Linked DNA regions of Homo sapiens. The protein of the gene in region 1 interacts with the protein of each later gene in a pairwise test. Each region holds a gene or a part of one and is shown on either strand. Other genes may lie near its edges.

Evidence for each region.
Region 2: the proteins of SOX30 (region 1) and GP2 interact in a two-hybrid assay, tested with the Homo sapiens proteins (one large-scale study listed by BioGRID and IntAct).

The regions. Positions count from the first base shown.
Region 1 is NC_000005.10:157,635,317-157,639,135, forward strand, and holds part of SOX30 (transcription factor SOX-30), read right to left. Parts: intron 3,407-3,819; coding exon 2,914-3,406; intron 1-2,913. UniProt on the Homo sapiens protein: Acts both as a transcriptional activator and a repressor. Binds to the DNA sequence 5'-ACAAT-3' and shows a preference for guanine residues surrounding this core motif. Binds to its own promoter and activates its own transcription.
Region 2 is NC_000016.10:20,320,767-20,324,585, reverse strand, and holds part of GP2 (pancreatic secretory granule membrane major glycoprotein GP2 isoform 2 precursor), read left to right. Parts: intron 1-329; coding exon 330-770; intron 771-1,196; coding exon of another isoform or gene 1,197-1,205; intron 1,206-1,606; coding exon 1,607-1,717; intron 1,718-3,819. UniProt on the Homo sapiens protein: Functions as an intestinal M-cell transcytotic receptor specific for type-I-piliated bacteria that participates in the mucosal immune response toward these bacteria. At the apical membrane of M-cells it binds fimH, a protein of the bacteria type I pilus tip.

The DNA.
Region 1 (3,819 bases):
TTCTGTCTTCCAAGAACTTACTTTTGGGTGGGAGCAGTGGCTCATGCCTATAATCCCAGTAGTTTGGGAGGCTGAGGCAGGTGGATCACCTGAGGTCAGGAGTTCGAGACCAGCCTGACCAATATGGTGAAACCCCATCTCTACTAAAAATACAAAAATTAGCCGGGTGTGGTGATAGGCACCTGTGGTCCCAGCTACTCGGGAGGCTGAGATAGGAGAATTGCTTGAACCTGGAAGGCAGAGGTTGCAGTGAGCCAAGATTGCGCCACTGCACTCCAGCCTGGGTGACAGAGCAAGACTCTGTCTCAAAAAAAAAACAAAAACAAAAACAAAGAACTTACTTTCAAGAGCTTCCTTTTAAAATGTTCCTTAAAGTGTCAGATAATTTATACATTAACAGTCAAATCTTACAAGCCTTGTCCCAAATAAATAAGATAGACTTCTATGATTTAATCTATGTAATATGTAAGGAAAATTACCTGCCCCAATGTCCACTTGACTATGTGAGGTTTTTATTCAAAATATATTTTTTCCATATGATTCTCTGCTAGCAACTAACAGCTGCCAATCAAGAGGAGCTGTCATAAAAGAAGTCTTACTGATATAGTAAAAAAGACAAATATGAAATTCAAAATCAATCAAACCTGAATTTGACTATTGGCTCTGCCACTGTACAACCTTGATGAGGCTATTTACTAATCCATTTATTTAACTGAAAAAGTAGGGGAATATTATACCCAAGTCACAGGATTGTTATAAAAACTACGTGTAAAAATTCTTAGCTCTCAAAACACTAAAAAGAAGAAAAATGCAACAAACAAAAAAGTAGTAACAGCTAGAGTGAGACTGTGGTACACAGCCCATTGTAATTGACTCTTCTTCACCTATCCTGTGAGTAAATAGGGTCCAAGCATTTCCCATATTACAAAATTAATTATGTAGCAGATACAATTTTCCACAATTTTTGTTATAGGCCTCAAGATTCTAACTAAGGCCAAGTGTTCTCAAATTTACTCATTCATTAAATTCAATCTACACCCTTCATATTCTTCTTATATGTAGGAAACATTTTATAAAATTCTCCAAAATTCCTGTAAAATCCTAGATCCTAGCAGATAGCAATGAAAAGAGATTATCAACCTCCCCGGCCTTAAATTAAAAGTCTCTTGAGGTTTGATCCCTTGAACTAAAATACTTATTAAGGCTGCAAAAGATAAAAAGATTCTACATAAAACAAAACAAACCCTAGATGACAAAAATCTTCCTTTCTCCTGATCTAATCCTCTGGTCCCACTTTCTTCCAGTCCTGAGCTAAGGGCCCAAAAGCAAGCAATTGATTATAAATTGAAGCAACATAATATATACCTCAAAAGTTGTTTCTATTGAGGTGTAGGTATACCCTAATGGGAAGTAGATTTACTTGCTAAGTAAGAAACAATAAAAGATTGGTGTTAGACAGTTTAATACTCCCGTCTCAACAGAAACCATCTTTGTCTACACATTTAACAGTAATTGAAAAGTAAAGGCTAGGCCGGGAATGGTGGTTCACGCATGTAATCCCAGCACCTTGGGAGGCCGAGATGGGCAGATTATCTGAGGTCGGGAGTTCAAGACCAGCCTGACCAACATGGAGAAACCCCATCTCTATTAAAAACACACAAAAAAAATTAGCCAGGCGTGGTGACGCATGCCTGTAATCCCAACTACTCAGGAGGCTGAGGCAGGAGAATCGCTTGAACCCGGGAGGCGGAGGCTGTGGTGAGCCAAGATCGCGCCATTGCACTCCAGCCTGGGCAACAAGAGCAAAACTCCGCCTCAAAAAAAAAAAAAAAAAAAAAAATGGAAAGCAGAGGCTAATACCACTCTATCAAAATACTTCCAAGGGAGTTAAATTTCTATCATTCCAAAATGAAGTTACACATTTGTTTTCCCTAGATACTTCCCTATGAAAATGAATTCCTTTATTGGTAATTTATGTGGGAAATTTTCTAATTTGGTAAAAAGGGCACAAAGAGGTAGTATAACTTTGGTCTAGTCATTTAACCTAGGTAAATAAACAATTTTTCACGTAGACCAAGTGCCCTCCTCTATACCCTTGCTATTCAAAGTGTGGTCCGTAAACCAGCAGAATTGGCAATCACTTGGGAGCTTGCTAGAAATGCCAAATATCAGGCGTACTATACTCCCATATAGGATACTACTAAACCCCAGACCCAATGAATCAGAATCTGCATTTTTAACAAAATACCACGATTTATATACACAATAAAGTTTGAGATGCACCCCCTCTATACAATAAGTACACCTCAATACATTTGACTAAATGATCTTAAGGTCCCTTATAGTTATTTTGCATGAAAAATTATATCCAACATTAAAGCCTATATTCTTGTTCTTTTTTTTTTTGAGATGGTCACCCAGGCTGCAGTGAAGTTGGTGTGATCTCAGCTCACTGCAACCTCCGCCTCCCAGGTTCAAGTGATTCCCCTGCTTCAGCCTCCTGAGTAGCTGGGATCACAGGCACGTGCCACCACGCCTGGCTAATTTTTGTATTTTTAGTAGAGACAGAGTTTTACCATGTTGACCAGGCTGGTCTCAAACTCCTGACCTCGAGTTACCCACCCACCTTGGCCTCCCAAAGTGCTGGAATTACAGGCATGAGCCACTGCCTGAAGCCTATATTCTTATGTAACAAGAGTCAGCTGGAGCTGAGTTAGAGCTGCACTCTCCCTAGCTACCCCAGTCCTCACCTGGCCCTCTCCATCTATTTATGTTAACTGCTTGGCTCCTAGTCAGCAGAATTGAAGAAGTCTGCTTTTCAGTATTTAAAAACAAATAAACAAAAAAATGTTGTCACAGGTAAAAACTCATTAGCTGAATGTTTAGGTAAAAGGAAAAAAAATGTTAATTTACCTTGATGGGAAGTAGTGAGGTCCGGGTAGGAAGTAAGGGTGATGAAAAGAGAATCTTGGTGGTGTCCCGAACAGTGTGGCTGGATGGCCAAGGGGAGGGGGCTGGTAGACATGTGGGTGTGGAATGGGAGAAGCCTGGGGGATTGGAGCACTTCTGGGACAAGGGGAAACGCTGGAATACTCCCTAGGAGGTTGGATGGTCGAAGTTGCAAATCTGGCATGGGCAGTACTTGCACTACTTGAAATCCTGTTGGCGCTCTCTAGAGAGACAGGAGTGGGTTGCTTCACAGTGTGAGTGGCTTCAGAATGCAGCTGATGAGTGTCTGTTTGGGAAGGCCCAGTAAAGCGTTGGGGTGGGAGTGCTGGATAGACAGGTAGACTTGGATCCTGGACAGCCACCTGAGCAGCACTGGAGACGCTGGGCTGGAAAAGTGTGACAGGGCTTGGGCTCTGGACTGCAGGTGTGGGCAGCTGGATAGCAGGTGAGGTTTCACCTTTAGAAATAAAAATAGCATAAATCAAGAATTAACTGAGTCATTCCATGTTTTTCTTCTTTCAGTAAAGTTTAATAAATTGTATAAGCAGAGGCCTTCATCAATCACCTTACCTAACTGCATCATCATATCAAACCACTCTATTTCATTTGCAGCATTTTGAACAAACTGAAGTTATCTTGTTTTCTTGTTCATTTACATTTTTTGTCTCTCTCTCTCAACTAGACTCTAAGTGCCATGAGAAGAGCAACGTTTTCTGTTTCGTTTGCTGCTGTATCCCCAGGGTGAAACATTCTGTCTGGGGCAGAAGAGGCCCTCAACAAATATTTTTTAGATGAATAAACAAATGAATAAAATTATTGATAGATATATTAAAAGACTGAAAACACATAAATGCTGGTATGCATATATAC
Region 2 (3,819 bases), on another chromosome or scaffold:
TATTACATTTATAATGAGAAAAACAAATATTGGTCAAACAAGGCTGCTGTTTGCATGATGCACAGGAAAGAACTTTGTTACTCTGAGGCAGGGAGGGAGGCTGTGCAGGACGGTAGCCCTGATGTCCTCAATGCCTGTAAAATACCACAGAAGGTCCTCACTGATTATTCTGCCCCCAAGGTGATGAAGTTGATGTTTAATTAATGGACCGTGTGTGTATTGTCCTCATTGGAGTCCTTAGCACAGCCAAAATAGAGCATGGAGGGGAAAAAATCCTGTAGGTTCTGGCATTGCTCAGTAAACCCAACTGCACTCTGTCACTTTCCCAGGTTATGGAAACCCCATTGAAGCCAGTTCGTATGGGCTGGACCTGGACTGCGGAGCTCCTGGCACCCCAGAGGCTCATGTCTGTTTTGACCCCTGTCAGAATTACACCCTCCTGGATGAACCCTTCCGAAGCACAGAGAACTCAGCAGGGTCCCAGGGGTGCGATAAAAACATGAGCGGCTGGTACCGCTTTGTAGGGGAAGGAGGAGTAAGGATGTCGGAGACCTGTGTCCAGGTGCACCGATGCCAGACAGACGCTCCCATGTGGCTGAATGGGACCCACCCTGCCCTTGGGGATGGCATCACCAACCACACTGCCTGTGCCCATTGGAGTGGCAACTGCTGTTTCTGGAAAACAGAGGTGCTGGTGAAGGCCTGCCCAGGCGGGTACCATGTGTACCGGTTGGAAGGCACTCCCTGGTGTAATCTGAGATACTGCACAGGTGAGCAGCAGAGCCCTGGAGGAGGCAGCTACACAGCCAATGAGATGCCTCCCAGGCTCAGTAGAGTGAGTGGAGCAAGTCAAGAGGAGACAGGAGAGGATGCAGAGCAGCCTCGACTCAGCTCCTGCCCAGTGAGAACTCAACACAGGGGTTGAGACCTTCCAACATTTCAAGCCAGAAATTCCCATTCAAGGGTGAAATTTCCCAGTTTATAAATGTGTGTAGCATAAAATCCAGAACTCATGCTCGTTCCGATTTTGGCTCCATTTGAGAAGTTTAATTTGCCTCCCTGAGCCTCAGTGTTCTGATCTGAAAAAAAGGGGGGGGGGGTACAGCAAAAATAACAGCTAATACATAATGCTCACAATGTCCTTGTTGCTATCCTAAGTACTTCAAATGTATTAACTCATTTGATCCTCTCCCCAGTTCCACGAGGTAAGTGCTACCTAATTACCCCAGTTAGGGGCACAGAGAGATTAAGGGGCTCTCCTAGTATCACAGAGCTGGAGCATGGTACAGCTGGGATTTGAACTTGGCATTCTAGCTCCAGCATCCATGGCCTTAACCACCATGCTGTCCTTTCTCATTTTGATTGAATAGGCTAATACATTCCTTGTCCTTAGAATAGAGTCTTGCCTGTAGTAAGTGTTCAGGTGGCAGCTTTAGGGCTCTCACTTATCCCATTGGACTGGGAGTCAGGCTTGATGCTTCCACTAAGTATCACACAACCTTGGCAAGATTCTTGTGCCCCGGTGAAATGAAAGGGTTGGACTTGGGGGCCTCAAGTCCAGCCCGCACTGCATCCTGATCTTCTCTCTCCATGCCCCATCACCTAGACCCATCCACTGTGGAGGACAAGTGTGAGAAGGCCTGCCGCCCCGAGGAGGAGTGCCTTGCCCTCAACAGCACCTGGGGCTGTTTCTGCAGACAGGACCTCAATAGTTCTGGTGAGCTGCTCACTGGGCAAGTAACTACCATCCTGAGGGGGCAGGGCAGGAGGGAGGGAGCTTTAGAGGGTCAAGATAAGGTATAAAGCAGAGTCAGGGGCATGGACCTGAGGTCAAGGGAATGTGGGCTCTCCAATCCATTTGCTGTAAAGCCAGTGGGTTTGCAAGGATAGGAGGGCAGGGTTGGAGCAAATTTCCAGGTCAGCTGCTGGGCCGTGGCCTCAGGAAATGGTTCTGACATGGGCAGGCTTGACCCCTGAGGGATGAAGACACTGAAGATGATAATTCTGCTAATGTAGGAGCTATGTTTTCATAGCCACAGGGTCTTCATGTCAGGGACATGGGCAGACTTCTGGGGACAAGTCACTACTGTCTCTGAGCCTGAATATCCTCATCTGTAAAATGAGGATAAGGTAATAATAATACCCACCATACAGGGCTATTGTGAGAACTAAATCAGAGCAGTCCAATTGGGCAGGCTCAGGAGGTGATGAATTTCTCGTCCCAGGAGGTAAGCAAGCAGAGTGAGATGTCCCATGGGTAGGGATGTCATAGACAAACAAGCACTAAGCCCTGGACAGGGGATGGATGAGCCTCCCACTGAGATTATTTCCCTCCATCACTGAACTCTAACAAGGGCCTTTGATCTTGCCTTTGGCACAAGCATGCCTTCCTCTGAGCACACTACAAGTCCCTATGGAAGAGAGAGTGTTCTAGGCAGCAGGACAAGAAGGAGCATGACACATTTGGAAAACGGAGCCACAGTGTGAACAGGGCGATGCTTAGATGTGCCCAGCAGAAGCACCCTGGGAAATGAGGGGTAGGGAACAACCAACAACCTTGATCTCCTTGAAGACTCTTTCTGCTCATTGAGTGGATAAGGCCCCAGAGATTCAGTGTGGTTTTCTGGGGTTTGGGCCCATCACAGAGTCAGATTTTGGGCTTTAAGGAGGCCCTCCCTGTACCTGGATGGGCTCCAAGGACAGTCTCAGCTGACTGAGTGAGCAGGTGGCCTGCCTCAAGTCTTCATCAGTGGCCAGCACAATGATGAGTGTCCAGTGGGCCCCATTGCTTGCAGACACATCCCTCTGTGCTCTGACTTTCACTTCCATCTCCTTCTCCCACACCCTGCTCTCATTTTAGGTTCCTGCGCCTCTGAACTCTGAAATTCCACAAATGCACCATTCCCTCTATCCCATCTCCATGCTTTTGCCTCTCCTGTTCCCTTAGCCTGGGATGCGTTCACTTGCTTTACTGACTTGCAAAACTCCTACCCACGTTTCAAATTTCATACCACTGTGAATCCTTCCCTGACTTCACCAAGAGACTCAGATAGACCTTCTTCTCTGCTCCCCCTGCATCTGTACATACTTCTGTCTGTATCTTTATCATATTGAAGTATAATAAACTGTTGATATGTTGGTGTTTACACAAGACCAAGAAATCCTCATGGGCCAAGTCCATGCCTTATTTACTTCATGTTGAATGCACCTAGCATTTGAGAAGGTGGTTGGTAAAGTGGCTCATGCCTGTAATCCCAACAGTTTGGGAGGCTGAGGCCGGCAGATCGCTTGAGGTCAGGAGTTTGAAACCAGCCTGGCCAATATGGCAAAACCCCATCTTTATAAAAATACAGAAATTAGCCAGGTGTGGTGGCTCATGCCTGTAATCCCATGCCTGTAATCCCAGCCTTGGGAGGCTGAGGCAGGAGAATCACTTGAATCCAGGAGGCAGAGGTTGCAGTGAACTGAGATTGGACCACTGCACTCCAGCCTGGGCAACACAGCAAAACTCTGTCTAAAAAAAAAAAAAAAAAAGAGAGACAGAGAGAGAGATAATGTGGTTGGTAAATATATATTGAATCAATGCATTAATGAATGCAATAGAAACTGTCTTCCTATTAGTTTACTATTTGTCTCCCCTATTCAACTGTTAGCTCTATAAGAGTGGGAATTTTTTCAGTTTTGATAAGTGTTGTAGCCCCAGTGCCTGGCAGATAGTAGATTCTCAAGAAGTTGTGTGTTGAATAAATGTTGAGTTAAAATATGATAGCTCTGAACTTGGTCAGATGTGCTGACTCAACAAGGTAGCATATATCTAAC